Linked DNA regions of Homo sapiens: all the other regions are linked to region 4. Evidence: fine-mapped expression QTL. A gene starts in region 4. Each other region holds a variant in brackets. All regions are shown on one strand. Distances are between the middles of the regions.

Region 1 (8,000 bases), 42 kb after region 4:
CCAGGTCAACCCACACCAATCTCTTCTGGACAGGTGCTGGGTAGGCCTTCCTGGTCTCTGGCCGCCTGCTGCCAGGGTGTGGCCATCCCCAGCAACCGGAGCTGGCCAAACCAGAGGCCTCGCTCCGCACTCCACACTTTCCTTTCTGTGCTCCTTCCAAGTTAAATTAAACCCCCTCTCCACGATTCCCACGGCAGGCGTCATTCCCGAGATGGGAGCCAGTCCAGGGGTCAGCAGGAGCCAGCGCTGGGCACACGTGCCCTGGCTGAGGCCAGCGGCATCCTGGGTGGCCCAGGTCCATCCTGGGCAGCAAAGGCGTGTCCCCTTCTGTCAGACAGCTTCACAGAGTGTGGCTTCACCAGTCAGAGGGAGCAGTCCGGAGAGGCAAGATGACCCCACCGGGACTGCAGAGCCTCCTCCTTACTAACAAGGACCTGTCCGCAGCCGCGAGGTCCTTCACTCCCACCCTGTAATTGTGGGGGGAGTGCCAGCAACAGGCCTGTCCCCTGGCAAGTTGGCCACGGAACCCACCATGCACTGCAAGGCTGTGACAGCCTGGGCACCCCTGCTTCTCCTCTGCTTGTACGGTTCCCCCAATAAATCCTATTTTCCATCTCACCGTGTGGAGCTGGTACTTGTTCACATCCCTCTTGCAGCAACAGTTGGCCGCCGTGAAACCACACTCCGTCACATCTCCATGCCAGTGCCCAGGGGGAGACCCCTCCCCATGCCTGGGCTGTTACAGTCACCTGGCCCAGACGTAACCTGGACCAAGAGTGGACGGAGACACCTGGGGTTGGGGCCTCTGGAAGGGCTGCTGGGGGGCCAGCTGCAGCCTGTGGCCTCTCCCAGGCCCGGATATGGCAGGACATTTGCGTCGTGTTGCTGGAAGAGGCAGGATGCTCTGTTCTCGCCATTAGCCTGCGTTACGCCTAGACTCATCTGCATAAGCCTGGGCAAGTGGCACCCCTGGGCCAAGGGCAGACTTGCCCACCCGTCCATCCTTTGCCTATGGCAGAGGACACACAACACAGTGGCTGCGCTTTGGGCACTGTTCTCGGCCCTGAAGCATCCTGCCCCGAGGCTGACCTAACTGCCCCCAGCTGGACTCATGGCCAAGGCTACAGACCCAGTACTCCAATCCCGACTCCCACTGTGTGGTCCAAATGTGTACGCCCACAGGAGGCAGCCATGCCCGAGGAAGGTACTTGCTGAAAGATGGTCCAGTTCATGCCGCCACCAGCTGGACCTCTGATCAGGCCCCCTGCAGAAGGGGAAGCTCTCCACATGCCCAAGATACGAGAGAAACGCCCGGGTCACAGCAGCCTGAGTCACTGCAGCCTCTGCTACCTGCCAAGCCTGCGCCCTCCACCTGTGGGCTCCTTGCCTCTGTGATGGGGCCTCCACGGCCAGCATCTTCCCGCCATGGTCACATGATGCCATGCCCTGCTCTGGGCACCCCTAAGCGGGTATGAGGCGAATCAGAGGAAGAATATCGGCTTCTCTTCCCTTTTGGATATTTGCGTCATTGACCGGGACTGGCCCACTCTTCCTCTGCCTCACGCCTGCTTTGACCTTAGAAGACAGACGGCAGCTCGCGTTGCTGGGCTGAGATTCTCCAATGGACGTGAATTTAGATGATGCTGTTGCCTTGGGTGGCTTCATGGCCACCAACCCGCACCCTGGTGGCCACTCAGCCATGACAAGGGCCTGACAGCCACTAAGTGAGCTTCAGAGCCTTCCCCTTGCAAAGTTCCAGGGCCACCAGATGTCGCCTGCCCAGTCACTGTCACAGAGTTAAAGCGTGCGGGTGAACGCTGGCCGCGGAGCGTGCAGCCCGGCAGCAGCTCAGCGGGGCAGCTCCTGCTTCCAGCCCTGCCTCTGCTGGTGCTTCGCCCACAAACCCTGCTGTATGACATTTGCACCACATGGTGTGTGTCCGTGCCCTTTGACATGACAGTGCCAACAACATCTCATGAAATTTAAAATAAATCCCCAAGGCATCAGAAACGTATCAACTAAGAACTCTAAGTTTGAAAATGGGGGTGGGGCAGTGGCCAGTTCCGGGAGCCCCTGGCCCCCCGGGACCTGACCCACAGTCATAAGGTGGGCCCCATTCCCCAGTGGTCCCAGCCTAGCCTCCTGTCCCACCTCCTCTGCCAAGACAGAGTGGCACAGGACCCCTGTCGCTCAGGCCAGCAGGTGTGTCTCTGAGCTGGCCGTGGGCACTGACCGCCCTCCCAGGTCCCCTCCAGTGCCAGCTCTTCTGGCTTCCCCTCCCAGCCCCCTTCGTGAGCGCCTTGATCCAGCCCAACCTTGGAGTGGGGGTTGGTGATTTGGGGGCTGGACCTCAGCCCTCTTCTGCTCTGCCACTTTTGGGGTTCACGGTTTGTCAGCCCTCCCTTCTGCAAATGAGACCTGGACGTCATGTCCAGCTGCCTCCTGGGCCCTGCCCGGCATCTCCCATAAGCACCATGCAGCACAGGTGGCAGAGGGGATTGTCCTCCATCCTCTTGTCTGAGGGAGGAGACCACAAATGAGTGAGACAGTCATCCTCGCTGCCCTGCCTGTCCTGTGTCCCATCAGTCATCAGGGCCTGCCACCTGCCTTTGTCTTTTATTTATTTATTTATTTTTTAAGATGGAGTCTCGCTGTGTCGCCCAGGCTGGAACGCGATGGCGTGATCTCAGCTCACTGCAACCTCCACCTCCCTGGTTCAAGCGATTCACCTGCCTCAGCCTCCCGAGTAGCTGGGACTACAGGCGCACGCCACCATGTCCAGCTAATTTTTGTATTCTTAGTAGAGACCGGGTTTCACTGTGTCGGCCAGGATGGTCTTGATCTATTGACCTCGTAATCCACCCGCCTTGGCCTCCCAAAGTGCTGGGATAACAGGTGTGAGCCATAGAGCCCGGACCATCAATGGCTTTTAGTAAGTTCCTAGGGTTGTGCATCCATCACAACTATCTCATTCCAGAACATTATCATCACCCTGAAAGGCAGCCGCTTCCCCATTAGCATTTCCTCTCCTCTGCCTGTTTTCCTTTATTTTTTTTAGTTTTATTTTTTTTGAGGCAGTCTCACTCTGCTGCCCAAGTTGGAGTTGAGTGGTGTGATCGTGGCTCACTGCAACCTCCACTTCCTGGGTTCAAGCAATTATCTTGCCTCAGCCTACCGAATAGCTGGGATTACAGGTGTGTACTACCACACCCAGCTAATTTTTTAACTTTTAGTAGACGAAGGGTTTCAAAATCTTGGTCAGGCTAGTCTTCAACTCCTGGGCTCAAGCAAACTGCCCCCCTCAACCTCCCAAAGTGCTGGGATGACAGGTGTGAGCCACCATGCCCGGCCCCTCTGTCTGTCTCCTTCCCTCGTGTGCTAAGGAGCTGATGGGGCCCCTTTCTCTAGAGTGTAATGCTGAGAGGATCTGGAGAATCCGGGGAAGGCACTAGGACAGCAAAGGAGACCCTTTCCTGGGTCCCCGTATTCATAAACATTCCCATCCCTCAGCCCCTCACTCACGCAGGGCACTGCCACTGGCAGGTGTGGCCACATCAGTCTCCAAGCCTGTCATCCCTCAGCCCCTCACACATGCAGGGCACGCCCACTGGCAGGTGTGACCACAGCAGTCTCCAAGCCTGTCATCCCTCAGCCCGGCACTCACGCAGGGCACAGCCACTGGCAGGCGTGCACAGCAGTCTCCAAGCCTGTCTCCCGCCTGCATTGTCCCTCTGCCAAACCCGGCCCCATCACAGCTCAGCGAGAACAGGATGAGCTCAGCGCACACGCCAGCTCACACACCTGCCCAGGCACACTTTCCCCGGCCTCCTTTTTGAAACAGTCTCACTCTGTCACCCAGGCTGGAGTGCAGTGATGCCACCTTGGCTCACTGCAGCCTTTAACTCCTGAGCTCAAGCAATCCTCCCACCTCAGCTTCCCAAATAGCTGGGACCACAGGTGTGCACCAGCACACCCAGCTAGTTTTTTAATTTTTTTTTTTTTTTTTTTTGAAGCAGAGTTTCACTCTTGCTGCCCAGGCTAGAGTGTGGTGGTGTGATCTCGGCTCACTGCAACCTCCACCTCCCAGGTTCAAGCGATTCTCCTGCCTCAGCCTTCCAAGTAGATGGGATTACAGGCATGTGCCGCCACCACCCCCGGCTAATTTTGTAGTTTTTTTTTTTTTTTTTTTTTTTTTTTTTTTTATAGAGACAGGGTTTCACCATGTTGGTCAGGCTGGTCTCGAACTCCTGACCTCAGGTGATCCGCCCGCCTCGACCTCACAAAGTGCTGGGATAACAGGTATGAGCCATGGCCTAATTTTTTAATTTTTTGTGGAGACAGAGTATGTTGCCCTGGCTGGTTTCAAACTCCTGAGCTCAAAAGATCCACCGCCTCAGCCTCCCAAAATGGTGGGATTACAGGTGTGAGCCACCGCTCCTGGCTCTAAAAGTGGAAATCGAAGCGCATAACACCTGCCCCAGGTGTACTCGCCCTGTTTTTCCCATCAGGTGCGACTACCTGGTTCAAGGACCAGAAGCCAGACGTACCCAAGGGGGTTCTCAGGAGACAGAGGGTATGAGAGTCCCTGGCCTCAGGCTGCTAGCACCAGCCACGGTTGCCTCCAGATACCCGTTCCAC[C/T]GGCCCTCCAGCCACCTGCTCTGCTTCCCGGCCTGCGTGGCCAACAGAACACATCCGGCTGCCGAGGAAGGAGGCCAATCACCCCCTTCCCCATACTGAAGCCCCAGAGGAATGGGCCCAGCTGGAGGCACTTAACCGTAGCCGGGGCCATTTTGTGCACAGGGCCTACCAGGCCCCCACTGACGAGGAGGGTGTTGGACCTGAGCGGGCTATCACTGCAGCCTTTGGGGGTCCACAACCTGCCTAATGAGCCTCGCCCCTCACCACCCCCCATCCTGCCAGCCCCTCTGCGCTCCAGCACACAATTGCTGCAGAACAAATCACTAGTAATTTATCATCTCGAAACAACACCCACTTACCTCATGGCTTCTGTGTGGCAGGAGTCCGGGGAGGGGACTGCTGAACCTCTGCTCAGGGTCTCACAGGCTGCACTCAAGGTGTCAGCCAGGGCTGGGATCTCAACCGAGGCGCGAGGTCCCCTCCTGAGCGCATGTCGTTGTGTGCATAATCTTTCTCGCAGCTGTGGAGCCGATGGCCATATGCTTCTTTGGCATCAGGAGGGGGCGGCTCTGTGGCTTCCAGCCTCTTAAAGGGTGCACCTGAGCTAGCCAGGCTCGGCCAGATCAACCTCCCTTCTGATGAACGCCAAGTCACCTGATTAGAAACCCCGGTCACACCTGCAGAAATCCCGCCACTGCAACACCACGGGAGAAGTAGAAAGAAAAAAAGTAAAAAGTCCTTCCACCGGTGCCACACAGAACAATCACAGGAGAGGTGGCCCATACTCCAGGGAGGGGGTCATGGAGCACAGAGACACCGAGGGGGGATCCTGGGGCCACCTCAGAATCCCGCCGGCCACAGCTCCCAGCCCACCCCTCACTAATCACCAAACTCCCTCCCTGACCTGGGAGGCGGTGTTGGGGGCCCTCCTGTGGAAGTGCCTTGGCTCGGAGGGACCCCACTGGGCTGTGCCCTGCCAGCCATGTGGTTCCAGACAAGTCCCTGTGGGCCCCACCCTCCCCCGTACTGCCCAGTCTAAGGCAGGAAGCCTCGGGGGCTGTGTGGGGTGCCCAAATGGCCCTTCCTGGGGTCCTGAGAAGAGGCCTGCCTGGACCTCACAGATCTGCTGGGGAGGCGGGGGTCGTGGGAAGGCCCCGGGGGGCAGGCCAGGGACCAAGCCGTGTCCCCCGTGAGGCCCGAGGACAGCATGGGATGCCAGGACCCAGAGGCCCCCACCTGCTCGGTGCTGCCCAGCCCTCTCCTCACCTGTTCCGGCCCCCACCAGCCCCTGGCTTGCCTCCGAGGTGCCCATCCACCCCTGCGGGGGGGTGGGGGTGCCGCGCAGCAGGGAGGAGCGGCCTCTACTGTCTCCCTCGGTGTCTCCCGGAAAGATCCCAAGCCCCAGGCCGGGGAGGGGCCGCTTCTGCCCAGTCCCTCCCTCCTCCACGCCTGACACCTGTGGGGCCAGTGCAGGAGCCCCACCTGTGTCTACACCGCCCTCCCCTCCTGGATTCCCTGTCACTCCGGCAACAGGAACAGTTGTTCTGAGCACTTGTCATGTTCGAGGCAAATACTCCTCCTTTCTGTGAAGCAATGTGGGGTGGGGGTCCTCCTTCTATCCAAAGCTGAGGGCCCTTCTAGTGCCCGTCAAGCCCTCGAGGTGGGGATGGCGGGGTAGGCAGCTAGGAGGGACTAGGCCCCCCTGAGGGGGGCTTCCAGTCACCCCTCATTCAGACTGAGTGGAGACCAGCTGCGGCCTTCCTGGGGACAGGACACCCCCAGCCCTGCCAGCGAGTGAGCCCTCACCGGGCCTGCAGGCCTGAGGCAGGGGGAGCCGGGGAGCGGGGTGAGCCGCTGAAAGTCCGGGGGGTGGGCACTGCTTTTTAGACAGCAGCAGGTCAAAGTCAGGAGGGTGAGGGTGGCCAGGACTCTGAGGGCAATGAGGGTCCCCGGGACATGCGAAGCCCCGCATCTGCCATGGTGCTGGGGGAGGGGCCCGTGGAGGAGGGGGTGGGCGGGGTCGAGCAGGTGGCTCACCTCCTTGTTCCGCCTTCCAGGAACCAGGTCATGGTCGTCCTCACTTGCTGGGAAGGGCGGGACTGGCTCTGCTCGCCCCCACACCAGCCCCCAGACCAGCTAAGGCTCTTGGTCTCTCACCTTCCAGGGGTCCCGTGCCCCCCCACCCTACTCAGGCCATGCACCACTGACCGGGCCTGGCCCTACCTGTGGACAGCCTCCCTCCCCAGGGTGCAGGAAGGGGCCTCTCTCCATGGAAAGTGAAGCCTCAACCTGAGCAGGAGGAACAGGAAGAAAGGGCTTGGCTCACCCGCCCCCAGCCCCTGGAGCTGCCCGTGTGGGCCCCTTCCTGCCCCTGTGCAACAACACAGTGAGCTGTTCGGACAGACAGGCAGACAGACAGACAGACAGACTCCTGCATTCAGAAAGAGCCCCAGCCCAGCCAGGGCAGGGCAGCTTCCAGCAACTCTTGCAGACATTTTGGAGGCCAAGGCCGCTAGCGCCCCAGCAGCCATTCCGAGCCGACTGGCCTGGGGCCCAAATGAAGCCAGCCAGCCCTGGGCACTCCCGGGCCCTGCCAGCCTTGGGGTCCTCATCTGAGAAGGGCGGGTCCTGCAGGCCAAGCCACTGGGGTGACAGCCAGTCATCCAGCATCCCCATGGGAAAACCCCTTCAAATCCACCCAGGAGCTCAAGGGCTGAGTTGAACTCTGAGTTTCCAAATCAGGGCCCCTCCCTGGCTCTGCCCACGCTGGTGACCAGAGCATCTAGGACAAGCCGGCAGCAAGTGACCCCATCCCACCGAAATAAGCCTGGCTTTGGTCATCTCGCCCCCTGCTGTGTCCCACTGTCACCCATTCCTCAGGTGGTGGGGGAGGCGCAGAGGAACCAGGCAGCTAAGGAGGCAATGGCGGGCGGGGCAGACAGCAGGCTGGAGGGGTAGAGATCAAGGAATGCTTCTCAGAGGAGGCAGCTCTGAGCTCCGCAGCACAAATTTATTAAGTGAAGATGTAGGGAGAAGCACATCAGGCTGAGGGAACCGCAGTACAGCAGCCCAGAGCGGAGAAAGGACCGGACCTGGAAAACCAGGAGGAGATCATGCTGGGGTGTGGGGAATGTGGTGGGGGTGAGGTCACGGAGGGAGGCATGAGCCAGCCCAGGCAGCACCTTGAAGTGTTCTGAGAGCTTCCAGAGCATTCTTTTTTTTTTTTGCCCCTGCTCCCTCACCCAGCCTGGAGTGCAGTGGCGCGATCTTGGCTCACTGAAACCTCCGCCTCCCAGGGTCAAGGGATTCTTTTGCCTCAGCCTCTTAAGTAGATGGGATTACAGGCGTGTGTCACCACGTCT
Region 2 (8,000 bases), 26 kb after region 4:
CCAGCCCGATATGGAGGGCCTGGAAGCCCGGCGGCAGCAGGAGAAGGCCGTGGAGACGCTGCAGGCTGGGCAGGACGGCCCTGGGAGCCAAGTGGACACGCTGCTCCGAGGCGTGGATAGTTTGCTCTACCGCAGGGGTCCGGGTCCCCTGACTCTCACCAGGCCTCGGCCCAGAAAGCGAGCAAAGGTCGAAGACCAGGAGCTGCCAACCCAGCCCGAGGCCCCAGACGAGCACCAGGACATGGACGCAGACCCGGGTGAGCTGCCTTCCTTTGGGGCTCACCGGCCCTGCCTTGACTCTTGCCTCCAGAGGTCCAGGGAGGGAAGGGGGTGCGATCAGGCCTACCCAGCCCCTGTCCCCTCCCCTGACTGCCTCTTGAACCTCCCCAGGAGGCCCTGAGTTCCTGAAGACGCCCCTGGGGGGCAGCTTCCTGGTGTACGAGTCCTTCCTCTACCGGCGGGAGAAGGCGGCTGGGGAGAAGGTGTATTGGACCTGCCGGGACCAGGCCCGCATGGGCTGCCGCAGCCGCGCCATCACCCAGGGCCGACGGGTGACTGTCATGCGTGGTCACTGCCACCCGCCCGACCTGGGAGGCCTGGAGGCCCTGAGGCAGCGGGAGAAACGCCCCAACACGGCGCAGCGGGGGAGCCCAGGTACCTGGGGGTGGGCTGGGAGCTGGGCCCCAGGAAGCAGGCAGGAGCCCCACACTGCCTTTCCCTCTCCATGCTGCGGCTCCCCCTGGCAAACGTCCTCTTCCCTTCTTTGAACATCCTAGAAGGAACTATGGCCCTGGCCTCCTACTCCTTGGCCCCCCTGATGCCGCTTTCAATGGGTCTCACCTTCCTGCTCAGCCCAGCCTCCCCCTTCCAGCCTGACCTGCCCCACAGTAGCAGCAGCAGGGATAGACCTCCCTGCCCTCCTCTTCCTCCGTTTGTCTTAAGAGTTCATAGTAGTAATAGAGGGTGTTGACTGCACATGGTCAGTCTCGTTGCTATGGTGGAAGGCTGTCTTAACGTCTGAGTGGTTAAGGATTGAGGAGGTGATATTTACTTACATGCAGCCGGTTTCTCCTCTCGGCCCGCTGTTCCATAGACACCCATAATGTCCTGAAACGCTGGCCCGAGGAGGGTCCCGGCTGTCTCCATCTTTATCCACACGGTCGGCCCCCCGCAGTGCCTGGTGTTTTGACTTCACAACCACAGTTGCGTAAATGTCCCCATAGCGTCTGGCTGAGGAGCCATTTCATCGTGGCCTCCTCCACTCACCTGCTCTTCCTTCACGCCCCAAGGCGCTGGCCTCTCTTTCCAGTGGCTCTTCCGGATCCTGCAGCTTTTGGGTCATGTGAGTTGCCTCATGGCCCTAAAGTTCTCTCGGACTTGAGAGCTGTGATTGTCTTTCTCTTTTTGTTCCATCTCCAGAGAGACAGTGCTGCGAGGTCCCCGCCTCGTCCTCACCCCCGCTCCTGACCCCACAAGTAACTAAGCAATTGTTTCTTAGGGTCTTGGCTGCCCTATTTCCTAAAATGTGCCTCCACTACTATTAATTGGTTTTTCCATTTCCTTGTCAGCTACTCAGTGCACTTCTTGCACAGGCTTTTTTTTTTTTTTTTTTCTTTGAGACGGAGTCTTGCTTTATCACCCAGGCTGGTGTGCAGTGGCGTGATCTTGGCTCACTGCAACCTCCGCCTCCCGGGTTCAAGCAATTCTCCTGCCTCAGCCTCCTGAGTAGCTGGGATTACAGGCGCCTGCCACCTCGCCCAGCTATTTTTGTATATTTAGCAGAGACAGAGTTTTACCATGTTGGCCAGGCTGGTCTCAAACTCCCAACCTCAGGTGATCTGCCTGCCTCGGCCTCCCAAAGTGCTGGGATTACAGGCGTGAGCCACCATACCCGGCCACGTTTGGTTTCACTTTAGCCTAGAAACCTGCTCGCGGCTGACTGGGGGGTGCTCTGTGGTCCCATCTTCCTAACACAGCTCTGTCTTCTCTGTGGGGTGGCAGCTGCTGCGTTTGTTTGCCTGCTTTTGTGTGTCCAGGTCGACCCCACCTGGATCCGATCATCCACAACCGCAGGTTGCTGGAACCTCCCAGTGCAGCCTGGCCTGGGGGCAGAGGCCGGGCCCAGCTGTCCCTCGGGGTTCACTGTGCTGACTCCCTGCTTCTGGGCCTGCCTTTCTCTTTCTTGGTTTTCTTTATAATTTTGTGGTTTGGAGAAGTCCTGCCTCCCGTCGTTTCCTGGGCCGGTCCCGGGAGGTAGCACGTTGAGGCCTTTCATGTCTGAAATGTCTGTCGCTTCCCTCCGCCGGAGGGGCAGCCTGGCCTCCGTGGTGTCACAGGTGCAGAGCCTGCCCTTGAACGTCCCTGCCGCTTTTGCGTGACTGATCCTCTGTGTGCCGTCAGCTTTGCTTGAGGTTTTAGGGTCTTTGCTCCCTCCCAGCTGTACCTGGCTGTGCTGGGGGCCTTTTTAGGCTTTGGGCTTGTGTCCTTCATCGTGGGGTCATCCTCTCGTGCTCTTTGTTAACTTCCCCATCATCATCCCTTTCTGTTGCTCCTGTTAATCAGATGTTGATCCTCCCAGATGAGGGCGTCTTTTTTTTTTTTTTGAGACAGTTTCACTCTTGTCGCCCAGGCTGGAGTGTAGTGGCGTGGTCTTGGCTCACTGCAACCTCTGTCTCCCAGGTTCAAGTGATTTTCCTGTCTCAGCCTTCTGAGTAGCTGGGATTACAGGTGCACACCACCACGCCCAGCTAATTTTTTGTATTTTTTTAGTAGAGATGGGGTTTCACCATGTTGGCCAGGCTGGTCTTGAACTCCTGACCTCGTGATCCGCCTGCCTCGGCCTCCCAAAGTGCTGGGATTACAGGCGTGAGCCACCGTGCGCAGCCCCTTGCTGGATATTTTCATCCGTGTGGAAGGGGATAAAGCGTGCCCCATGGTCACACCACCCCCTCCCGTGGCCTGGCGTCCCCACCTTCGTCCTGACCTCTTCTGTCTCGTGGTCCCCAGGCTCCTGTGCTGCTGTGCCCCTCAGGGTCCTCCTGCCTCCCGAGCCTCCCTGCTCCACATGGCCCCTGCCCAGCCCTCTCCATCCCTCTTGAAGGTAGTTCCACAGCCAGACACCCTCCCGCCCCCCGCTGGCCTCTCCTCTAGGGCTTGCTACCCACCCCCATCCCCTGCTTCCACTGCCACCCGATGTGTCCACGATGCCCCAGGCCACCTCCCCACCTCTGTGGCCCCTGAGCCTGCACGGAGGAAAGGGTATCCTCTGGGCAAGGCACAGCCACCCGCCAGGTCCTCCCTCTCACCACATCCAGGACAGTGGACGCTGCTCCCTGCCTCTTCCTCAGAGTCCTGGGGTCACACCTCTACCTGCGCGGCTCTCGGGGGCCACCCCTCTCAGCCCCATCCGGCTCCTGAGCAGCTTTGTCCCCAGAGGGCCCCGGGTCATTCCTCTGACCAACCAGGCACGGCGCACCCTGCATGCAAGCCTGGGCGGGTGCTGGGGACGGACGAGTGACGCAGCAGACACTGCCTCCCTGAAGGCATGGCAAGGTGGGACGCTTGGCCGCCACCTGCAGGGGCCTCACCTGACCAGTCCCCAGCCTCAGGAGGCGGACCCCAGCAGCTGGAGCCCCAGCAGAGTTGGGGGGATGGTGGCATCTGTGTCCTGGGCTCCGGGGCCACCTCACTGTGAGGAGGAGGTGTGGGCGTTGTGGGAGGTCTCATCTCGGGGCCATGCTGATCTGGGCTCTGAGAGCTGGTGTCCGCTGCTCCTCCCCTCCCATTTCTCAACAGGAGGCCCCGAGTTCCTGAAGACGCCCCTGGGGGGCAGCTTCCTGGTGTACGAGTCCTTCCTCTACCGGCGGGAGAAGGCGGCCGGGGAGAAGGTGTATTGGACCTGCCGGGACCAGGCCCGCATGGGCTGCCGCAGCCGCGCCATCACCCAGGGCCGGCGGGTCATGGTCATGCGCAGGCACTGCCACCCACCGGACCTGGGCGGCCTGGAGGCCCTGCGGCAGCGGGAGCACTTCCCCAACCTGGCGCAGTGGGACAGCCCAGGTGCGTGTGGAGGGTGCTGGGCTGGGTCTGCCTGGTCTCCCAGGACCTGTGCCCCACACGCTGGCTGGAGGCTGCCCGTGGGGTGTTGTGTGTTGTGCATGGTGGTCTGACAGCCGGGGCCATAAACTCCCCAGGGGCAGGAGGCTCCATCTGCGGGCTCCGAGCTCCTGCAGCTGGTCCTCTGGGTAGTGGGGACTGGCTGTCGGAGGTAGAAACCCACTCAGCTCTCTAGAGGAAGAGGATGGTGGCCAGGGGTGGCATTGGCAGCCACAGAGAGTGCTTGGCATCTGCTGACGGGCCGTACGGTGGATCCTGGACACTCTTGGTCTACCCCCACGCCACCCACACTGCTTCTAGTCTCACGGGGTTCTCTCTGGCCACCCCAACATCATGTGACCTTTTAGTTCAGCTTGTTAAAAGTCAGCTGCCAGCTGGCTGAGGGGTAGGTGGACAGGGAGCCAGGAGGCCCTGGTGCCCAGCCCAGAAAGGCTCAGCCCCTGCCCTGGGGGATGCACCTGCAAGCATGAGGTCTGAGGGGTTGGGAGAGTCCTTCAGGAGCATTCAGGGTCCAGTGCTTGCC[A/C]GGCCACGTGCCCAGTCATCCCCAGAGCCCTTGGAAAGGGCCAGCCAGCGTGGGAGTCTGGGCTGCAGGGCCCAGAGGGGAGGAGGGCAGGGACCACCGTGCAGCGTGCTAGGGGATCGCAGATTCCTGGTGGGGCCTGGCTGGGGGATACAAATCAGACCCCCAGCCCTGCCACCCAGGCCCCTGTGGCCCCACTCACAGTGTCACTTTCCCTTTCAGATCCTCTCCGGCCCCTGGAGTTCCTGAGGACTTCCCTGGGGGGCAGGTTCCTGGTGCACGAGTCCTTCCTCTACAGGAAGGAGAAGGCGGCTGGGGAGAAGGTGTACTGGATGTGCCGGGACCAGGCTCGGCTGGGCTGCCGCAGCCGCGCCATAACCCAGGGCCACCGCATCATGGTCATGCGCAGCCACTGCCATCAGCCTGACCTGGCAGGCCTGGAGGCCTTGAGGCAACGGGAGCGGCTCCCCACCACGGCCCAGCAGGAGGACCCAGGTACAGGCAGGCTGTGGGGCAGAGGCAGGGCTGTGGGCATCCTCATCTCTTCCAGCTCAGAACTGATGCCCCAGGCCAGGCACCCACTGAGCAGACTGCTTTTGTGCACACACAAATTATTCATATAAACAGAATGTGAAACCAGTCTTTGTTTTTTTTTTTTTTTTTTTTTTTGAGACTGAGTCTTGCTCTGTTGCCCAGGCTGGAGTGCACTGGCGCGATCTCGGCTCACTGCAAGCTCCGCCTCCCGGGTTCACACCATTCTCCTGCCTCAGCCTCCCGAGTAGCTGGGACTACAGGTGCCTGCCACCAAGCCCAGCTAATTTTTTGTATTTTTAGTAGAGACGGGGTTTCACCATGTTAGCCAGGATGGTCTTGATCTTCTGACCTCGTGATCCGCCTGTCTTGGCCTCCCAAAGTGCTAGGATTACAGGCGTGAGTCACTGTGCCCAACCTTTTTTTTTTCTTGAGTCAGAGTTTTGCTCTTGTTGCCCAGGCTGGAGTGCAATGGAGCCATCTTGGCTCACTGCAACCTCTGCCTCCTGGGTTCAAGTGATTCTCCTGCCTCAGCCTCCCGAGTAACTGGGATTACAGGTGTGCACCACCACACCCGGCCAAAACCAATCTTTAGAAAGCATTGTGTGTCTCACTGTCATTCATGTGAATATTAAGGGCCATGTCCTGTATAACAGTAACAAATCCAAGTTGGCCAGGCACAGTGGCTCACGCCTGTAATCCCAGCACTTTGGGAGGCTGAGGCAGGCGGATCACCTGAGGTCAGGAGTTCGAGACCATCCTGATCAACATGGAGAAACCCCGTCTCTACTAAAAATACAAAATTAGCTGGACATGGTGACGCATGCCTGTAATCCCAGCTACGCTGTAATCCCAGCTGCTTGGGAGGCAGGAGAATCACTTGAACCTGGGAGGCGGAGGTTGCAGTGAGCCAAGATCGCGCCACTGCCCTCCAGCCTGGGCAACAAGAGTGAAACTCCATCTCAAAAAAAGAGAAGAAAAGAAAACAGCCTGGCCAACATGGTGAAACCTTGAAAGAAAACAGCCTGGCCAACATGGTGAAACCCTGTCTCTAAAAAAAAAGTTTATAAATCAGCTGGGCACAGTGGTGCACGCTTGTGGTCTGAGCTCCTCAGAAAAGGGGAGGATCACTCTAGCCCGGGAGGTTGAGGCTGCAGTGAGCCATGCACTGCAGTCCAGCCTGGGTGACAGAACAAGACCCTGTCTTTACAAGAAATTTTTTTGAGAAAAGGATTTCTTTGAGAAAGCCACTATCGAGCTTACAGAGAAAGTTGTGCTGGAGGCCTGGCCTTTCATCTTTGATGTCTAGTTGACCCCCACTATTTTCCATGACAGCAGCTGAAGGTCAACTCTTAGGAGCTCAAGTAGCTGCTGTTACCTGGGAAGGTAATTGATGCGTTGAATTCCCAGCGTTGCTTCACCCGGTTGTCTTTCTCCTCACAGCCTTGAGGGCGTCGTTAACAAGGTGTGTGTCCTTGGTTCTGTCAGCTTCAACAAGAGAAGAATTATTAATTCATATTTTCAATTATTTTTCCACAGAAAAGATTCAAGTTCAGCTGTGCTTCAAGACGTGTTCTCCTGAAAGCCAGCAGATTTATGGGTAATTGTATTTGTTATCTAATGGTGCATGACCAATTACAACAAAACGTAGTGGGCTTAAAACAACAAATATTTGCTGTCTCAGCTTTTGTGGGTCAACATTATGGGAGTGGTTGGGCTGGGTGGTTCTGACTCCTGAGGTTGAAGAGAATTTGTCAGCCAGGGTGGCAGTCATCTGAAGGCCCAAGTGAGGCTGGAGGCCCTGCTCCTCACCATAGGGACCCCTCCTTGGGCCCACTTGAGCATCCTTCACATGACAGCCATGGGACAGAGAGAGAACAAGAGGGAAGCTGCCAGCAGCAGAATTCAGGTTCTTCTCAACCACAGCCAGGCCATAAAGCAAGAGTCCATTATTTTATTTTTTGAGATGGAGTCTGTGTGTGGCCCAGGCTGGAGTACAGCGGCATGATCTCAGCTCACTGCAAACTCTACCTTCCGGGTTCAAGCAATTCTCCTGTCTCAGCCCCCTGAGTAGCTGGGATTACAGGCATGTACCACCACACCGAGCTGATTTTTGTATTTGCAGTAGAGATAGGGTTTTATCATGGTGGCCAGGCTGAGTCTCAAACTTCTGACCTCAAATGATCCTCCTGTCTCGGGTCTCCCGAGTGCTGGGATTACAGGCAAGAGCCACTGTGCCCAGCCTTGTTATTGGTTTGTAATTACATCCCACTATGGTCAAAGAACATACTTTGTATCATTTCAGTCCTTTCACGGCTGGATACAGTGGCTCATACCTGTAATTCCAGCACTTTGGGAGGCCAAGGCAGGCAGATCATTTGTAATTCCAGCACTTTGGGAGGCCAAGGCAGGCAGATCATTTGAGGTCAGGAGTTCGAGACCAGCCTGGCCAACATGGTGAAACCCCATCTCTACTAAAAATACAAAAATTAGTCAGGCATGGTGGTACATGCATGTAATCCAAGCTATTCGGGAGGCAGAGGTTGCAGTGAGCCAAGATTGTGCCACTGCACTCCAGCCTAGGTGACAAACAAAAACCAAATCAAAAACAGAGAAATTTGGGAAACTCAGAAATACGTAGAAATTAAAGAACACACTTATAAGAAACCAGTGAGTCAGACTGGGCATGGTGGCTCACGCCTGTAATCTCAACACTCTGGGAGGCAGAGGCAGGAGGATCACTTGAGCCCAGGAGTTTGAAACCAGTTGGGGCAACAGAGCATGACCCTGTGTGTAATTTAAAACAAACAAAACAATGAGCCAAAGAAGATAA
Region 3 (8,000 bases), 84 kb after region 4:
TCTGTCCCCCTCTCGGTCTGTGTTACCCTCCCCAGGCACTCGTCCCTCTGTGGCCTGCCAATGCCATTCCTGTGGGTGGGGACTCCTGTGGAGGCCTCTGAGCTGCTTCCTGGGCATGCGCCCTTAGTGAACTGTCAGGGTGTGGAGCACAGTGGCCCTGGGTGGTGTTTGGACCACGGACCCGCACTCCACATGGCCTAGGTCCAGCCTCTGCCTCCCTCACCCCACAGGCCCAAAACCAGGTCAGGGAGGGTAGGGTGTTGCGGAGGGCCTGGGCTTGGGTCTGGGGGCTCCAGGGAGCTGCAGCCTCCTTTACCTGGTCTCTCTCTCTATTCCTGGCATGGGGCGGGGGGTGAAACCTCTGAAGACAGGTGTGCCTGCCCTTTCCTGTGTCCCTGTCCTCCACTCCCCACATACACACATCCGGCCCTGCCTCTGCTTCCTCCTTCTACTCGGTCTCCCAAGATCTGGTGATGGGAATGGGATGGGAGCTGGGGCCTTCCTAGGAGCTGGAGCCCAGCCAGGTGAGGGCAGCTGGACCACACTGGGATTCTAGAAGACACAGGGAAGAACCAGGGGATATCAGAGGTCCAGAAGGCAGAAAGTTTATTTCTGGGGGAGGACAGGGGATGGGTGGGGTCCGTGAGCCCCTGCTCTCCTCTCCCCTATCTTGACTGTTTCCCCTGCATCTATGGCCTTGTCCCACCCTCAAGCCCTCCCCAGATCCACCCCTCACACACTGCTTCTCCTCCCAGGATACAACAATGGAAACGGACCGGGAACCCAGCCAGGTCGGGGCCGAAGGGGCTGGGGTGGCTGGGGGAGAGGTCAGGGGCCCAGGGCCACACTCTGGGTCCCAACAGATGGGCTCTTGGGGGTTCATTCATTCACCCAATCTCCCCTGAGCACCCGTCCCAAGCCAGGCCTCGGCTGGCCATGGAGGACACCCAAGCTGGTCAAGGGTGGCCACGGTCTGGACTCCCGGGCCAAGAACCAAATCCAACTTTGACTGCAGTCAGGCCTGGGAGGGAGTTCACACAAGACAGAAAGGCAGAGGGCAGGGGTCACGCGAGACAGAAAGGGAGAGGGCAGGGCTCCAGGCCCCAGCTCATCCCCACTGCACCACCTTCCACACTCCTGTGTCTGCCCTCAAACAGGTCCTGCCGCTCAAAATGGCTTTGGACCAGGTAAAGAGGGTGGGGACGGAAGCGGGGAGCCTGGGGCTGAGATTCTGGGCACAGGCCCAGAGGAAAGGATCCCTCACCCTCTCATCTTCCCCCCAGGCTTTGGAGGGGGTGGAAAACCCCAGAAGCCAGGTGAGCCACTCCCTGTCCCTGTCTCCCTGCCCATTTCCTATGCATCTGCCGCTGCTTCCCTAGAGTCCCTGATCTCCCCATTCTCTTTGGCTCTGTCCCCTGGGATTTGGGAATAGGAATGGGTGGGGAGTCGGGGCCTTCCTGGGAGCTGGAACCCAGGCAGGTAAGGCCCTGGAGTTCTGGGAGCATGGAGGTCTTAGGGGTTGGGGGTTACTGATGTAGGGGCCTGGCCCTGGTCCTGAGCAGAGAGGAAGGGATGGGTGGACTCACAGGAAGTCCTTCCCCTTCTCTTCCCAGGCCTGGGAGGGGGACTAAAGGCTCAGAGAGCAGGCGAGCCCCAATCTCTAGCCTCCCAACTTGGTCTCACACAACAAACCTCATTCGACAAACCAATCCAGGCCTGGAGCAGTGGCTAACACCTGTAATCCCAACAGTTCGGGAGGCAGAGTTAGGTGGATCAATTGAGCCCAGGAGTTCAAGACCAGCCTGGGCAACATTCCCAAGCTGGTCTTGAAATCTTGGGCTCAAGCAATCCATCTACAAAAAAAAAAAACCTAGCCAGTTGTGGTGGCACGTGCCTGTAGTCCCAGCTACTCTGGAGGCTGAGAGGTGAGGATCACTTGAGCCCAGGAAGTCGAGGTAGTAGTGAGTGGAGATCTTGCCACTGTACTCCAGCCTGGGTGACAGAGAGAGATCCTGTTTAAAAAACAGACAGGCCGGGCTCAGTGGCTCACGCCTGTAATCCCAGCACTTTGGGAGGCTGAGGCGGGTGGATCACAAGGTCAGGAGATCAAGACCATCCCGGCTAACACAGTGAAACGCCGTCTCTACTGAAAATACAAAAAAATCAGTCGGGCGTGGTAGTGGGCACCTGTAATCCCAGCTACTCGGGAGGCTGAGGCAGGAGACTGGCGTGAACCCAGGAGGCGGAGCTTGCAGTGAGCCGATCGTGCCACTGCACTCCAGCCTGGGTGACAAAGCAAGACTCCGTCTCAAAAACAAACAAACAAACAAACAACAACCAAAGTAATCCGTGGACCATGCCTGTTCTGAGCCAACCAGGTGCTGGGGACAGGCCCTCCCCAACCAGGGCCACGCTGGGGCATACAGTATGGGCTGAGGCTGCCCCAGAGCTGGGCTCTGGGAGTTCTTAGGAGGCAGTGGAGGCCAGGGAGGAGAGAGTGGCCCAACCCTCTGAGAAACTGAACCAAAAGGAGAGTTTTGAACAAAGAAGGTACAGGCTCCAGCAAGATCTCAGACCTGGCCAGGCGCAGTGGCTCACGCCTGTAATCCCAGCACTTTGGGAGGCCTAGGCGGGCGGATCACTTGAGGTCAGGAGTTCAAAACCAGCCTGGCCAACATGGTGAAACTCCGTCTCTACTAAAAATGCTAAAAATTAGCCAGGCGTGGTGGCGGGCACCTGTAATCCCAGCTCCTCAGGAGACTGAGGCAGGAGAATTGCTTGAACCCGGGAGGCGGAGGTTGCAGTGAACCAAGATCACGCCATTGCTCTCCAGCCTGGGCAACAAGAGCGAGACTCCATCTCAAGAAAATAAAAAAAAGAGCTCAGACCCAAGATGTGGCAGGAGCTGGAGCTTGACAGTTGGAGGCTGCTGAGGAAAGGAACCTGCCTTTCTGGCTCGTTGAAGTTGGGGGTGGGGACACCCCTGCCCGAGGTGGCTGGAGATGGCATCCAGGGCTCCGGAGGGCCTTAACCCTTTCTCTCCTCCACAGGCCCCACCACTCAAAATGGCTATAGACCAGGTAGGGGCGGGGCTGGGGTTTGGGGAGGCCCAGAGCTGGGGCCCCAGGTTCCTCACCTGCTCCCTGTCTCTCCACCAGGCTATGTGGGGGCCGTCAAACCCCAGAAGCCAGGTGAGCCCTGCCCCGGCCTGTCCCTCTGCCTCCCCAAAACCTGAGCTCCCTCCCCTCATTCATACCCCGCCTTGATCTATTCCCCCAGGATTCCAGTACAGAATTGGGCTGGGAGCCCAGCCAGGTGAAGGGGGTACAGTCTGGGGTTCCAGGGTCTGCATCTGGGCGGCCTCTTCCTCCCAGGGGCGGGATTGGTGAATGATGGAGAGGGGTGACGGGGCGTCTCCAAGATCCTTGGCTTCTGGCTTGGCCCTGAAGGGGAACCATAGGCGCTGTGTCCCCAGCTTAGCTCAGCCCTCCCACCCCGACAAGCCCCCCACCTCAGAATGGCCCTGGAGCAGGTCCTGAGGGGGATGGGAGGAGCTGGGGTCCAGATGCTGGGGTTCTGGGGTGGATCTGAGTTGGGGGCTCCTAGGTACCTCATCTGCTCCCCATTTTCCCAAAGGCTTTAGAGGGGACATGAAGGCACAGGAGCCAGGTAAGCCTGGCTCTCCCGGGCTTCTGTCTCCCCAGTGTTCAGAGCCCCCTTCCCCCTCTCACCCCCACCTCCATCTGTCCCCCAGGATTAGGGAATGGGAATGGGCTGAGTGCTCAGCCAGGTGAGACAGATGGGGTCTGGGGTTCTACCCCTGGGGCGTCCTCTCCCTGCCTCCCTTCCCAGTCTCATGGGGGGCTGAGCTGGTGAATAACTGAAGGGCTGCTGGGAGGAAGCCTCCAGGATTCCCTTACCTCCACCTCAACCAAACCCCAAATCCCCACCCCACCCTCCTCTCCCCATAGTCTTGACAGCCCAGAACCGATTTGGATTTGGAGCAGGTAGGAGCAGGGGTGGGGAGGGGCTGGGGGAGAATGTGGGTGGGGCCCCTGAGTCACTCACCAGCCCCCCTATATCTCCTCCAGGCCTTGGAGGGAATGTGAAGCCTCTGAAGCCAGGTGAGCCCCGCCCGCCCTGGTCTGCCTCTCTATGCACGAACCCCTGAAGCCATAAGCACTCTACTCATGCTCCCTCCCTCTCCAGGATATGGGAAAAGGCTGAGAGCAGGGGCCTTCCCTGGGGCTGGAACCCAGCCAGGTGAGGACACCT[G/A]GGGTAGGAGCCCAGGCTTTTTTTTTTTGAGATGGAGTCTTGCTCTGTCGCCCAGGCTGGAGTGCAGTGGCGCAATCTCGGTTCACTGCAACCTCCACCTCCTGGGTTCAAACAATTCTCCTACCTCTGCCTCCCAAGTAGCTGGGATTACAGACACCCACCACCGCACCTGGCTAATTTTTGTATTTTTGGTAGAGACAGGATTTCACCATGTTGCTCAGGCTGGTCTCGAACTCCTGACCTCAGATGATCCACCTGCCTTGGCTTCCCAAAGTGCTGGGATGACAGGCGTGAGCCACCGCACCGGGCTGAGCCCAGGCTTCTTAGAGGGAAGGGGGAAGACAAAGATCGGGCCAGGGGGCCGGGAGGGCAGAGTGTGGGTCTGAATCCTGGGGAATTAAGTGCCACTGGCTGGCCGGATGTGGCTCTGCCTCTGTGTCTCTCTGTAGGCCTGGGAGGGGGAGCCAGGCCCCCTCCCAGGGCCCTGGGCCCCCGCCCTGTCTCTAGGGCTGCGTCCTCCTGACACCCCCTCCGAATGCCGCCGTCTCACACCCTCCCCGTCCCTCCCCCTAGAATATGGCCATGGAAATGGACCGGGAGTCCAGCCAGGTGAGGGCAGCTGGGCCTGGCTCGCGAGGGGTCGGGAGGTGGGACGGGAAGAGAGAAGCTGAGGCCACAGGGACAGAGAGCTGGGGTCTGGGGATCAGCAGCACTGGCTGGAGTTGATGTCAGCCTCTCTGTCTCTCCCAGGCCTAGGAGCGGGGATGAAGCCTCAGATGCCAGGTGAGGGGACTGCCTGTGTCTGTGGCCCCACCTCCCCTAGATCCTGGTGTTCTAGCTGGGTCTGCGTGGGACTCCCAGGGGAGGGGTGACCCCTGCCTCATGAGTGAGGGGAGGTCTGTAGGAGCACCGAGGACCGAGGGGAGAGGAGGTTGGGGAGAGACTGAGAGCCCCCTTCCTGGCCCCTGCCTCCCTGTCCCCCAGTGGCTCAGCCTTACCACGTTCCCTTTTTTGCCCCACAGGCCTGGGAGCTCCAAACGGCTATGGACCAGGAAGGGGCAGGGCTGGGGTTCCAGGAGGTCCAGAGCGGAGGCCTTGGGTCCCTCACTTGCTCCCTTTCTCTTCACCAGGCTATTTGGGGGTTATGAAGGCCCAGAAGCCAGGTGAGCCCTGCCCCGCCTGTCCCTCTGCCTCCCCCAAACCCTGAGCTCCCTCCCTCATTCATACCCCACCTCAGCTCCATCGGCATTCAGGAGGGGGCTGGGAGCCGAGCCAGTGAGGGGGTGTCGGGCTGATGTCCCTGTCTCCCTCCCAGGCCTCCAGAGCAGGTGGACACCAAAATGAGGGAGGAGAGGTGGCGCCAGGATCCCTGGTTTCTGACTTGGCTCTGAAAGGGGATCCAAAGGCCCTTCGCCCTCTCCTTAGCTAGAATCCCAAACCCCCTGCTCACCCCTCCCTCCCCACAGGCCCCTTAGCCCAGAATGGCTACAGAGCAGGTACTGGGGGGCTGGAGTTGCTGGGAGTGCAGAAAGGAGGAAAGAGGTGGGGGCCTGGCTCTCCCCTGACCCTGTACTGAGGGTTTTCTTGGGGGCTCCTGCAGCCTTAGACGGGGTAGAGTCTGGAGAGGAGGCGGCACAAGGGGGAGGGAGGTGCTGGGAGCTCCAGTTCCTAAATTGGGAGGAAAGGGGGGCCAGGCTCCAGCCCCCTTCTGTACCCCAACCTCTCCCCATGCCGCCCCCACAGACCCTGCAGTTCCCACTGGTCATGGACCAGGAAGGGGAGGTTGGCATGGGCACCAGGTGGGGGACAGATGCCAGGTCTGGAAGAGACCCCTCAGTGAGGAGTGGGCATGGGTCCCTCACCTACTCGCATCTCTCCAGGTGCTGGAGAGGGCATGAAACCTCAGAAGCCAGGTAAGCCCTTCCCACTCCTCACTCTCCCTACCTGCAGAAACTGCCTACCCCTCCACCCTTTTCCCCTCCCAAGCTGTACCCTGTCTCCCCATGGTGCAAGAACGGGCTGGAGCTGGAGCCTTCCTGTGGGAAGGAGCCCAGCCAGGTGAGGGAGGTGGGTGGGACCTGGAGCAGAGGGGAAGGAGGACAGGCTCCAACGGACAGAGTTGGGTCTCAGTGGGGGAAGGGGTGGGGTGGGGTGGGCCTGTCCATTATTCTCCATGGGTCTCTGGCCTGGGAGAGAGCCAGAAACCTCCAAAGCCGAGTTGCTCTCTGCCCCTCTTCCTGCCTTCTCCAAGGTCCCCCACTCCAACCCCGCCCTCATGCCCTGCTCTCCCTCCCAGGATACACACCAGGGACCTGGCTGGGGCTCCTGCCAGGTGAAAAGACGGGGCTAGGGGGATCAGCAGGGGAGAGAGGGGTTCACTACACTCCTCGGGTGGGCTGATGTCTGAACTGGCCTCTTTCTGTCTCTCCCCAGGCCTGCGAGGGACCTTGAAGCCTCAGAAGTCAGGTGAGTGGGGGACCCCTGGCTCTGCCCCACACCTCCTTCTGCCTCTCAGCCCTTCTAGCCTCTGCCCCCAGTGTTGCCACACTCATCTCTGCTTTCCCTCTCCAGGACACGGCCATGAAAATGGGCCCTGGCCAGGTGAGGCCACTGGGACCAGGGGTGGGGGCCCAGGAGGAAGGGAGAGGGAGGCTGCTGGAAGACGGAGGGGCCTCCATCAGGAGCCCCATCCCTGCCAGATCCCTACATCCCTCTATCCCCTGCCTGGATCCCCAGGTCCCCCCAGGAGAGTGTGGACCAAGGGAGCTGGGCTTTTTCCAGCCTGGCTAATGTCCCCCTAAGGTGCTGGGTCTGCCCTAGAAGCCACTACAGGCCGGTGGCTTGGCCAGGCCAAGGCCTCCTGGGTGGCGTCGGTGAGGACTGGCCTGGAGCATAGCCCCACCCCTCCCTTCCTTCCCATCGTAGGTCCCTGCAATGCGAGGGTCGCTCCGATGCTCCTCCCCAGGCTTCCCACTCCAGGGGTCCCTTCGGACAAAGAGGGTGGCTGGGGCCTGAAATCCCAGCCCCCTTCCGCAGTGCAGAATGGCAAGTTACCAGGTCAGTGTGGAGTGGGGGTGCCTAGGGGGCACTGGGAAGCACCTGGCCCTATGAGGGTCAGGGCCTGGCTGCCATATCCCACTCTGTCCTCGGATGCCAAGGCTCAGAGAGGGCAGTGACTTGTCACACAGTGATCTGCTGAGGAGAAGCCTGAACTCTGGCCCTGGGACCCCATGTGGTCCCCAGTATGGGAGTCCTTTCCATCCCTGCCCCATGGCATCTGCAGTCTCTCAAGCCCTCGGCTGGGCTCACTCCTGCCCCTAACCTTCCTCCTAGCACCAATGCCAGCCATCCAGTGGGGACTGAAACCTCAGAAAGCAGGTGTGAGTCTGTCTGCCCCCAGGCCCCACATCCCAGAGGGACAAACTCTCAGCTAGGTCTATCCTCTGTCTCCACCCCAGATCAGGGTCACCCCTCCATCACCCTTTTTCCCTAGGCTGCCTAAGCTATTCAGGCACCCGAAGGCCAGGAAGTCCCTCCCCGAGTCTACCCTCTTGCTCTTTTTTTTTTTTTTTTTTTTTTTTTGAGACAGTCTCGCTCTGTCGCCCAGGCTGGAATGCAGTGGTGCAATTTTGGCTCACTGCAAAATACGCCTCCCAAGTAGTTGGCATTACAGGCACGCACCACCATACCTGGCTAATCTTTGTATTTTTGTAGAGTCGGGGTTT
Region 4 (8,000 bases):
TCTGTAAATTCCAGACATTGTATGAGAAAGCACTATAAAACTTTTTGTTCTGTTAACTGATGTTTGTAGCCCCCAGTCACGTTCCTCATGCTTACTTGATCTATTACGACTTTTTCACGTAGACCCCTTAGAGTTGTAAGCCCTTAAAAGGGCTAGGAATTTCTTTTTCAGGGAGCTCGGCTCTTAAGACACGAGTCTGCTGACGCTCCCGGCCGAATAAAAAAACCTCTTCCTTCTTTAATCCGGTGTCTGAGGAGTTTTGTCTGCGACTCGTCCTGCTACACTATCTCTGTATGGCCTGGTTTTTCCTAGGTTATGATTATAGAGCGGGGATTATTATAATATTGGGATAAAGAGTAATTACTACAAACTAATGATTAATGATATTCATATATAATCATGTCTAAGATCTATATCTGGTATAACTATTCTTGTTTTATATTTTATTATACTGGAACAGCTTGTGTCCTCAGTCTCTTGCCTCGGCGCCTGGGTGGCTTGCCGCCCACAGCAGAAGTTGCAGTGAGCTGACATCGCGCCATTGCACTCCAGCCTAGGCAAGAAGAGCGAAACTCCGTCTCAAAAAAAAAAAAAAAAATTTAAAAAATTAAAAAATTAGCCGGGGTGGTGGTGCGCACCTGTAATCCCAGCTACTCGGGAGCCTAAGGCGGAAGAATCGCTTGAACCCGGAGGCAGATTTGCAGCGAGCCGAGATCGCACCATTGCACTCCAGCCTGGGCAACAGAGCGAGAGTCCCCCTCAAAATAATTATAATAATAATAATTGCGGCCGGGCGTGGTGGCTCACGCCTGTAATCCCAGAACTTTGGGAGGCCGAGGCAGGCAGATCACAAGGTCAGGAGATTGAGACCAACCTGGCTAACACGGTGAAACCCTGTCTCTACTAAAAATACAAAAAATTAGCCGGACTTGGTGGCGGGCGCCTGTAGGCCCAGCTACTCGGGAGGCTGAGGCAGGAGAATGGCGTGAACCCGGGAGATAGAGATTGCAGTGAGCCGAGATCACACCACTGCACTCCAGCCTGGGCAACAGAGCAAGACTCCGTCTCAAAAAAAAAAAAAAAAAATTGCGGTGGTCTCAACGATGTAAAATTAAAGGTAGTGATTCATTTTCACAAAGATTGACAAGAAAGATGACAACTGGAAACTCAAAAGACCCAGAGTAGGCAAAAGAATATTGAAAAGGAATAACAGGCAGGACGCAGTGGTTCATGCCTGTAATCCTAGCACTTTGGGAGGTCAAGAGGGCAGATCACCTGAGGTCAGGAGTTCGAGACCAGCCTCGCCAACATGGTGAAACCCTGTCTCTACTAAAAATACAAAAATTTAGCCGGACGTGGTGGTGGGTGCCTGTAATCCCAGCTACTTGGGACCCTGGGGCAGGAGAATCACTTGAGCCCGGGAGGTAGAGATGGCAGTGAGCCAAGATCGCACCATTGCACTCTAGCCTGGGCAAGAAGAGCAAGACTCCGTTTCTAAATAAATAAATAAGTAATAGATACATCAATGGAATAGAATCAAGAATCCAGAAACAAACCACATTTATGATCAATTGGTTGTCAACAAGGGTGCCAAAGGTAGGGCGTGGTGGTTAGCACTTTGGGAGGCTGCGGCGGGTGAATAACTTGAGCCTAGGAATGTAAGACCAGCCTGGGCAGGATAGGGAAACCCCGTCTCCACAAAAAAAAAAAAAAAAAAAAAAAAATTAGCCGGGTGCGGTGGTGTGCACCTGTAGTGCCAGGTACTTGGGAGGCTGAGGCAAGAGGATCAATGGAACCCAAGAGTTTGATGGAAGCTGCAGTGAACTGTGATCTCACCACTGCACTCCAACCTGGACGACTGAGGGAGATTCTGTCTCAAAAACTAAACAAAACAAACGAAGAAACAAAAACAGCATCCTGGCCGGGCATGGTGGCTCATGCCTGTAATCCCAGCACTTTGGGAGGCCAAGTCGGGCAGATCACCTGAGGTCAGGAGTTTGAAATCAGCCTGGACAACGTGGTGAAACCCCGTCTCTCCTAAAAATACAAAAATCAGCCGGGCATGGTGGCGCACGCATGTAGTCCTAGCTATTGGGGAAGCTGAGGCGGACAATCTCTTGAACCGGAAAGCAAAGGTTGCAGTGAGCCAAGATAGCGCCATTGCACTCCAGCCTGGGCATCGCAGTCAGACTCCTCTCAAAAAAAGCTGGAGGGGCTGGGCGTGGTGGCTCACGCCCGTAATCTCAGCACTTTGGGAGGCCGAGGCGGGCGGATCACAAGGTCAGGAGATCGAGACCACGGTGAAACCCCGTCTCTACTAAAAATACAAAAAATTAGCTGGGCGCAGTGGCAGGCGCCTGTAGTCCCAGCTACTCGGGAGGCTGAGGCAGGAGAATGGCGTGAACCCGAAAGGCGGAGCTTGCAGTGAGCCGAGATGGCGCCACTGCACTCCAGCCTGGGCGACAGAGCGAGACTCCGTCTCAAAAAAGAAAAAAAAAAAAAAAAAGCCGGGCGTGGTGGCAACTGTCTGTAATAATCCCAATCCCAGCTGCTCAGGAGGCTGAGGCAGGAGAATCACTTGAACCCGGGAGATGGAGGTTGCAGTGAGCTGAGGTCGTGCCACTGCACTCCAGCCTGGGCGACAGAGCAAGACTCCATCTCAAGAAAAAAAAAAAGTAATTAAGTTCTGCTACTATTTTATTTTTGAACAGGGTCTTGCTCTGTCGCCCAGCCTGGAGTGCAGTGGCATGAGCGCAGCTCACTGCAGCCTCCAGCTCCCAAGCTCAAGTGATCCTTCCACCTCAGCCTCCTGAGTAGCTGGGACTACAGCGCATCACCACATCCAGCTAATTTTCTCTTGTTCCTCTTTTCTTTTTTTCTGTAGAGAAAGAGTCTCACTATGTTGCCTAGGCTGATCTCAAACTCCTGGGCTCAAACGATGCTCCTGTCTCAGCCTCCCAAAGTGCTGGGATTACAAGCAAGAGTCACTGTACCCGGCCAACATGGATGAACTTTGAAAGTGCTATGCTAAGGCTAGGCGAAAGAAGTCAGTCACAAGAGACCACATATTTGTTGCATGATTTCATTTATATGAAATATGCAGAATACGCAAATCTATAAAGACAGAAAATAGATCATATTACTTAGGGCTGGGGTGATTAGCAAATTGGAGGGTGGTGGCTAAAGGTTTCTTCTTGGAGTGATGAAAGGTTTTAAAACTGACTATGGTGCTGTTTGCACAACTCTCTGACTATACTACATATCATTTAATTGTACACTTTAAATGGGAGAAATGCATGGTATGTGAATTATATTTCAATAAAGATCTTACCAAAAAATAGTAAGCTGATTGTGTTAACATAGTTTTATGAAAAAGTACAATATTTTCCCAAAGAAATTTAGTGAGACGAGTGACATAGTTATACATTTTTGCAAATATCTTTGTTGCGGGCTTAAAAGAAGACTACTGGCTCTCATACCTGCTTCTACATTCAATGTGTTACATCACACGTCATGCAGACTTTGTAATACTATGTAATATTTCTGCTTTTTTTTTTTTAGACACAGTCTCACTCTGTCGCCCAGGCTGGAGTGCAGTGGCGCCGTCTCGGCTCACTGCAACCTCCGCCTCCCGGGTTCAAGTTATTCTCCTGCCTCAGCCTCCCGAGTAGCTGGGATTACAGGCGCCCAGTACCACGCCCGACTAATGTTCGTATTTTTAGTAGAAACGGGGTTTCACCATGTTGGCCACGCTGTTCTCGAACTCCTGACCTCAGGTGATCCACCCGCCTCGGCCTCCCAAAGTGCTGGGATTACAGGCGTGAGCCACCGCGCCCGGCCCAGGTATTTTTTTGTCGTTGTTGGCTTTCTGATGTAAGAAACAACTGTCCCTTCTCCCCCGTTGACTTATTTCCTTCAGTTTGGACTCATATCGTAGTCAAGGTTATAATCCGTTGCTATCGCTGTTTATTTGAATCTCACACTGGTTCCGCTCTGGGGTAGGGTCACTGGGGGCGTCAATGAGATGCATGAGAATCGCCTTCCCACGGGGTCAGGAAACTGACAGGCCCAAGAGTGCATCTCAGCAAACGCTCCGTTTCCTGCGGGCAGCCTCAGATACTGGGGACCGTCCTGGGGTCTCAATTAAGCGCCCCCTACCCCAGCCCCTTTACGCCAAGAGCGTCCTGTTCAGCTCCCCCATCCTAGCTCCGCCCCTGGACGCCGCCGTCCAATCTCGGGATGGCCCCGCCTTTTCCGTGAGTTACGTCCCCGCCCCCATGCGCTGACAGGCCAGGCCTGCGGCTCGGCGCCGCGCAGGGAAGACCCGGAGCAGCGGTTTACCTAAGGAACGGGCCGCGCGGTCTTGCTGCGCATGCTCTGAAGTAGCGCGCCTGAGCGTTCCGCAAGGCCGGCTCCCCGGCGGGGTCGCGCGCGCGGTCACGGGGCTCGCTCCCGAGGGGCAGGTCGGGGCTGGGAGCTGGTGCCCGGGTCGGGGTGGCGGCGGCGGCCTGGGTCGCGGGGTCGACGCTCGCTGCTGCAGCGGCAGAGGCTGAAGGATCCGCCGCGGCGCTGTCGCGGGAGAGGGAGGGCCCCGCTGCCGTCGGTGAGGACAGGCCCCTGCGGGCGGGGAATGTCCCGCGTCCCCGGCGTGGACGCGCCCGCAGCCCGGCTCTCCCGGGGGTCCCGAGGGTTGCGGGTGCTGGGGAGGGGTCTGCGTCCCGGCGCTCAGGCCGCCTCCTGTGGGGTCTCCCGCGATTCCCTCCTTGCTCCTCGCCCCTCCATCCCCACCCCCCCGTCCCCTGGCCTAAGCCCGACACCCCCACATCAAGGATCCCCGCACTCGTCCGCCGTTTCCTGGCGGTGTCTGCCCCGCCCAGCGCTGCCTTCCTGGACCCGCAGCATCAGCCCCGTCCCACGGTTGCAGCTCGGGCGGTCCCAGTGACCTTGCACTTTTGCGGGTCGGGACGCACCCCGCTCCCGCTTCTGACCCTATAGATCTCCGGTGACGGCTTTCGAACTTTGTTGACCCACAGCCGACACTGAGAAATGCCTTTTACGCGTGTACTCTGTGCCTGTGGGTCTGGATGACTGAAGCACAAGTTTAAAGGGAGACGCTTGTTTAAGCTCACATGACGCAGCTGGATCTGTTCGGATTAAATTCCGTTCCATTCTCTTCCACCCCGTTCCAAAAGGCTGCTGCTAACCCATGGAGCCTGCACATAACGGGTCTGACGTAGTTGAAACCCTCGCTCTAAACCCTGCCTGTTGTTCCTTTATTCCTTGTACTGGAAGCTGAACTCCCATAGTCAGATAATCATGTGCAAACTCCAATTCCAACGAAATGGCTTATTTTTATTTGCATATTTCTGCTTTCCAAGGGCCAATATGATTTCCAGGGCTTGATCTAGATTTTCTCGTGTGATTATATCATGTTTCTCTTGTTCCTTTCCCAAGTGCTACTGGCGGGACGTGTGGAAGGAACAAGGCTGAGGTTGGGGCTAGATTGCGGAGTGTTTATGACGCCCAGCTGATGATGCACTAAGGCTGGAGATGGAGATGATTTAATTGGGGAGAGACATGCTGAAAGTTAAGCTTTAGGAAGAGTGACCTGTCAGCACCCTATGTGGAGAATTGGAGTGGCTGCTTGCCAAAGCTGGCAAGATCGTTCAGAGGCTTTGGCTTGGGCTAAAGAGGTCGTGGTAAGGGATCATGTCCTGAGTTGGTGGGAGTGGGAAGGAGAGGGAAGATGGGTATATCAGGCATAGAGGGAGAGAGATTTGAGGATGCATTAGGCTGTGGGAAGGAGTAAATAAACTTATATTATGATGGAGGGTGACTGGGGAATACCGGGCTGGGGGGGTCTCATTGGCCAAGCTCTCCCTTTCTGTGCGCTCTAATTTCTAAGTTGCTTTGGAGCTGTGGCTCTTGGGCAATTCTGCACCCCAGGGAACGTTCTGCAGTGTTGGTGGTCACAACGTGTGGTAGGGCATGACAGTGGGATCTGGCAGGTAGAGACCGGGGTTGCTGCTGAACACCCCACGCTGAACAGGACAGCCTCCCACAGCAGAATCATCCGGCCCAAAATGCCAACGGTGCTGAGATTGTGAAGTTCATTTTTAGAGTAAATTTTAATTATCTGGGCATCTCTGCCACCTTCAACCTCTTCAGGAGGAATGTCTGTGTGCACCCACTGAGCCTGTGATGTCACCATAGTGGTTCATGTCTGAGGCAAGTGCACCTCCAACGCTCATGGTTCAGTTGCGGGTAGGTGGGAGGTGGGTAGACACTGGAGTCATCCAGGAGCTTTAAAAAAAAATTTTTTTAGTAGAAATGGTGGGGGCGAGGGGCAGGTCTCACTATGTTGCCTAGGCTGGTCTCGAACTCCTGGGCTCAAACAATTCTCTCACCTGAGCCTCCCAAACTGCTGAGATGACAGGTGTGAGCCACCGTGCCACCGGCCCATTCAGAAGCTTTTTAAACAGAGGGCCTTCCCTCCTCCCGCTCCTATCACTCAGGACCCCTACTGCACCTGGATGCTGAACACCTTGTTCTTGTCTAATGGTCGACAGTTCATGGAATAATTTCACCTGCAGTATTTCATTTGCCACTTTACTTTCTTCACAGGTGAAACCAGCCCAGAGAAGTTACGGGATTTGCCCCCGGGGCTCCTGCCCAGCAAGCCAGCGCCGTGACCCAGGTGTGGGGGATGATGGTGACGCTTCTCACTCACGTGTGAAGGTAATTCTGTGGCTCCATCAGCTGCCGACAGAGCCGCCTGGTTTTCGAGCCTTACTGATTAGAGTTTGGACCCCTTGGTGTCTGAGAGACACCTGACAGTTGCTAACATGTGACCCTTAGGTCTACGCTGAGCCCTTGTGGTCACCAGCAGGACCGCAGCGTCCCAGTAGGCCATCTGGCATTGCACTCAAATTGCTCCGCACCCTCAATTCTGGGAGAAGGGGAGAGAGGACAGGAGAGTGATGCACCATGAACTGAGACTTTGGAGCTTTCCATGCAAATCTGCCGGCCTGTGCTCCATTCACTTAAGAAATCTGTACTGAGTGCAGCCAGGCATGGTGGTTCACGTCTGTAATCCCAGCACTTTGGGAGGCTGAGGTGGGCAGATCACCAGAGGTCAGGAGTTTGAGACCAGCCTGGCTAACATGGTGAAACCCTGTCTATACTAAAAATACAAAAAATTTAGCTGGGCGTGGTGGCGCACACCTGTAATCCCAGCTACTCAGGAGCCTGAGGAGCAGAATCGCTTGAACCTGGTTCAAGGATTCAGCGGAGGTTGCAGTGAGACAGGATCGAGCCACTGCACTCCAGCCTGGGCGACAGAGTGAGACTCTGTCTCAAAAAAAAAAAAAAAAAAAGAAATTTGTACTGAATGAAGATTGAACATTACAAAAGAAACACATTAGGGCCCCTGTATCTACTGTAAAACAATGGGTATCTACTGTAAAAAAAAAAAGCACTTAAACTAGAGTAACAAAAGTTTCTAATTTTTATTAAATGAGATATTTATTGAATTTATTAAATAATATAAATGTATTAAAATATACTCATTTTTATTACATGCACTGAAATTTTTTTTTTTTTTCCTGAGACAGTCTCATTTTGTTGCCTAGGCTGGAGTGCATTGGTGTGATCTTGGCTCACTGCAACCTCCATCTCCCCGGTAGGTTCAGTGAGTTCTGCCTCAGCCTCCTGAGCAGCTGGGATTACAGGCATGCACCACGACCGACTAATTTTTTTGTATTTTTAGTAGAGACAGGGTTTTACCGTGTTGGCCAGGCGGCAAACTGGGATTACAGGCCTGTGCTACCAAGCCCAGCTAATTGTTGTATTTTTAGTAGAGACAGGGTTTCACCATGTTGGCCAGGCCGGTCTCAAACTCCTGAGCTCCACCTTACTGGCTAACGGTAAGTAAAATCTTTAACATGTGTTTGCTTTATATGAGTATAAAAGAATTGTATTTCCTTTGTTTTGGTCTAGGG

The links. PIP is the estimated chance that this variant, and not a neighbour inherited with it, causes the effect.
Region 1: its variant is fine-mapped to the expression of FLYWCH1 in coronary artery (GTEx, PIP 0.99). The same link has a PIP of 0.9 or more in spleen.
Region 2: its variant is fine-mapped to the expression of FLYWCH1 in whole blood (TOPMed, PIP above 0.99).
Region 3: its variant is fine-mapped to the expression of FLYWCH1 in whole blood (TOPMed, PIP above 0.99).

Annotation. Positions count from the first base shown.
Region 1 is chr16:2,949,195-2,957,194 of GRCh38, forward strand. FLYWCH1 (FLYWCH-type zinc finger 1) reads left to right here. Exons shown (of 10, transcript NM_001308068.2): 10 at 1-2,014. FLYWCH1-AS1 (FLYWCH1 antisense RNA 1) reads right to left here and starts at 6,963. Exons shown (of 4, transcript XR_007064947.1): 1 at 6,676-6,963; 2 at 4,998-5,332. RefSeq lists enhancers at 6,112-7,033, 7,034-7,953. The variant C/T (reference allele first, on the strand shown) is at 4,639.
Region 2 is chr16:2,933,326-2,941,325 of GRCh38, forward strand. It overlaps FLYWCH1 (FLYWCH-type zinc finger 1), which reads left to right. Exons shown (of 10, transcript NM_001308068.2): 5 at 1-257; 6 at 391-654; 7 at 3,796-4,059; 8 at 4,859-5,131; 9 at 6,707-6,767. FLYWCH1-AS1 (FLYWCH1 antisense RNA 1) reads right to left here. Exons shown (of 4, transcript XR_007064947.1): 4 at 5,138-6,655. Among named protein-coding and RNA genes, the nearest start is that of FLYWCH1-AS1, 19 kb to the right of the region's middle. RefSeq lists an enhancer at 4,866-5,479. The variant A/C (reference allele first, on the strand shown) is at 4,640.
Region 3 is chr16:2,991,648-2,999,647 of GRCh38, forward strand. It overlaps GREP1 (glycine rich extracellular protein 1), which reads left to right. Exons shown (of 29, transcript NM_001396456.1): 9 at 756-791; 10 at 1,158-1,187; 11 at 1,284-1,316; 12 at 3,051-3,080; 13 at 3,159-3,191; 14 at 3,280-3,315; 15 at 3,637-3,669; 16 at 3,972-4,007; 17 at 4,092-4,124; 18 at 4,849-4,884; 19 at 5,026-5,058; 20 at 5,406-5,438; 21 at 6,156-6,188; 22 at 6,709-6,741; 2 more. Among named protein-coding and RNA genes, the nearest start is that of GREP1, 7.4 kb to the left of the region's middle. RefSeq lists enhancers at 2,073-2,574, 3,894-4,866, 6,534-7,034, 7,035-7,535. The variant G/A (reference allele first, on the strand shown) is at 4,276.
Region 4 is chr16:2,907,552-2,915,551 of GRCh38, forward strand. FLYWCH1 (FLYWCH-type zinc finger 1) reads left to right here and starts at 4,380. Exons shown (of 10, transcript NM_001308068.2): 1 at 4,380-4,603; 2 at 6,625-6,738. RefSeq lists silencers at 4,131-4,190, 4,241-4,550, 4,571-4,720, 4,751-4,850, 4,824-5,013.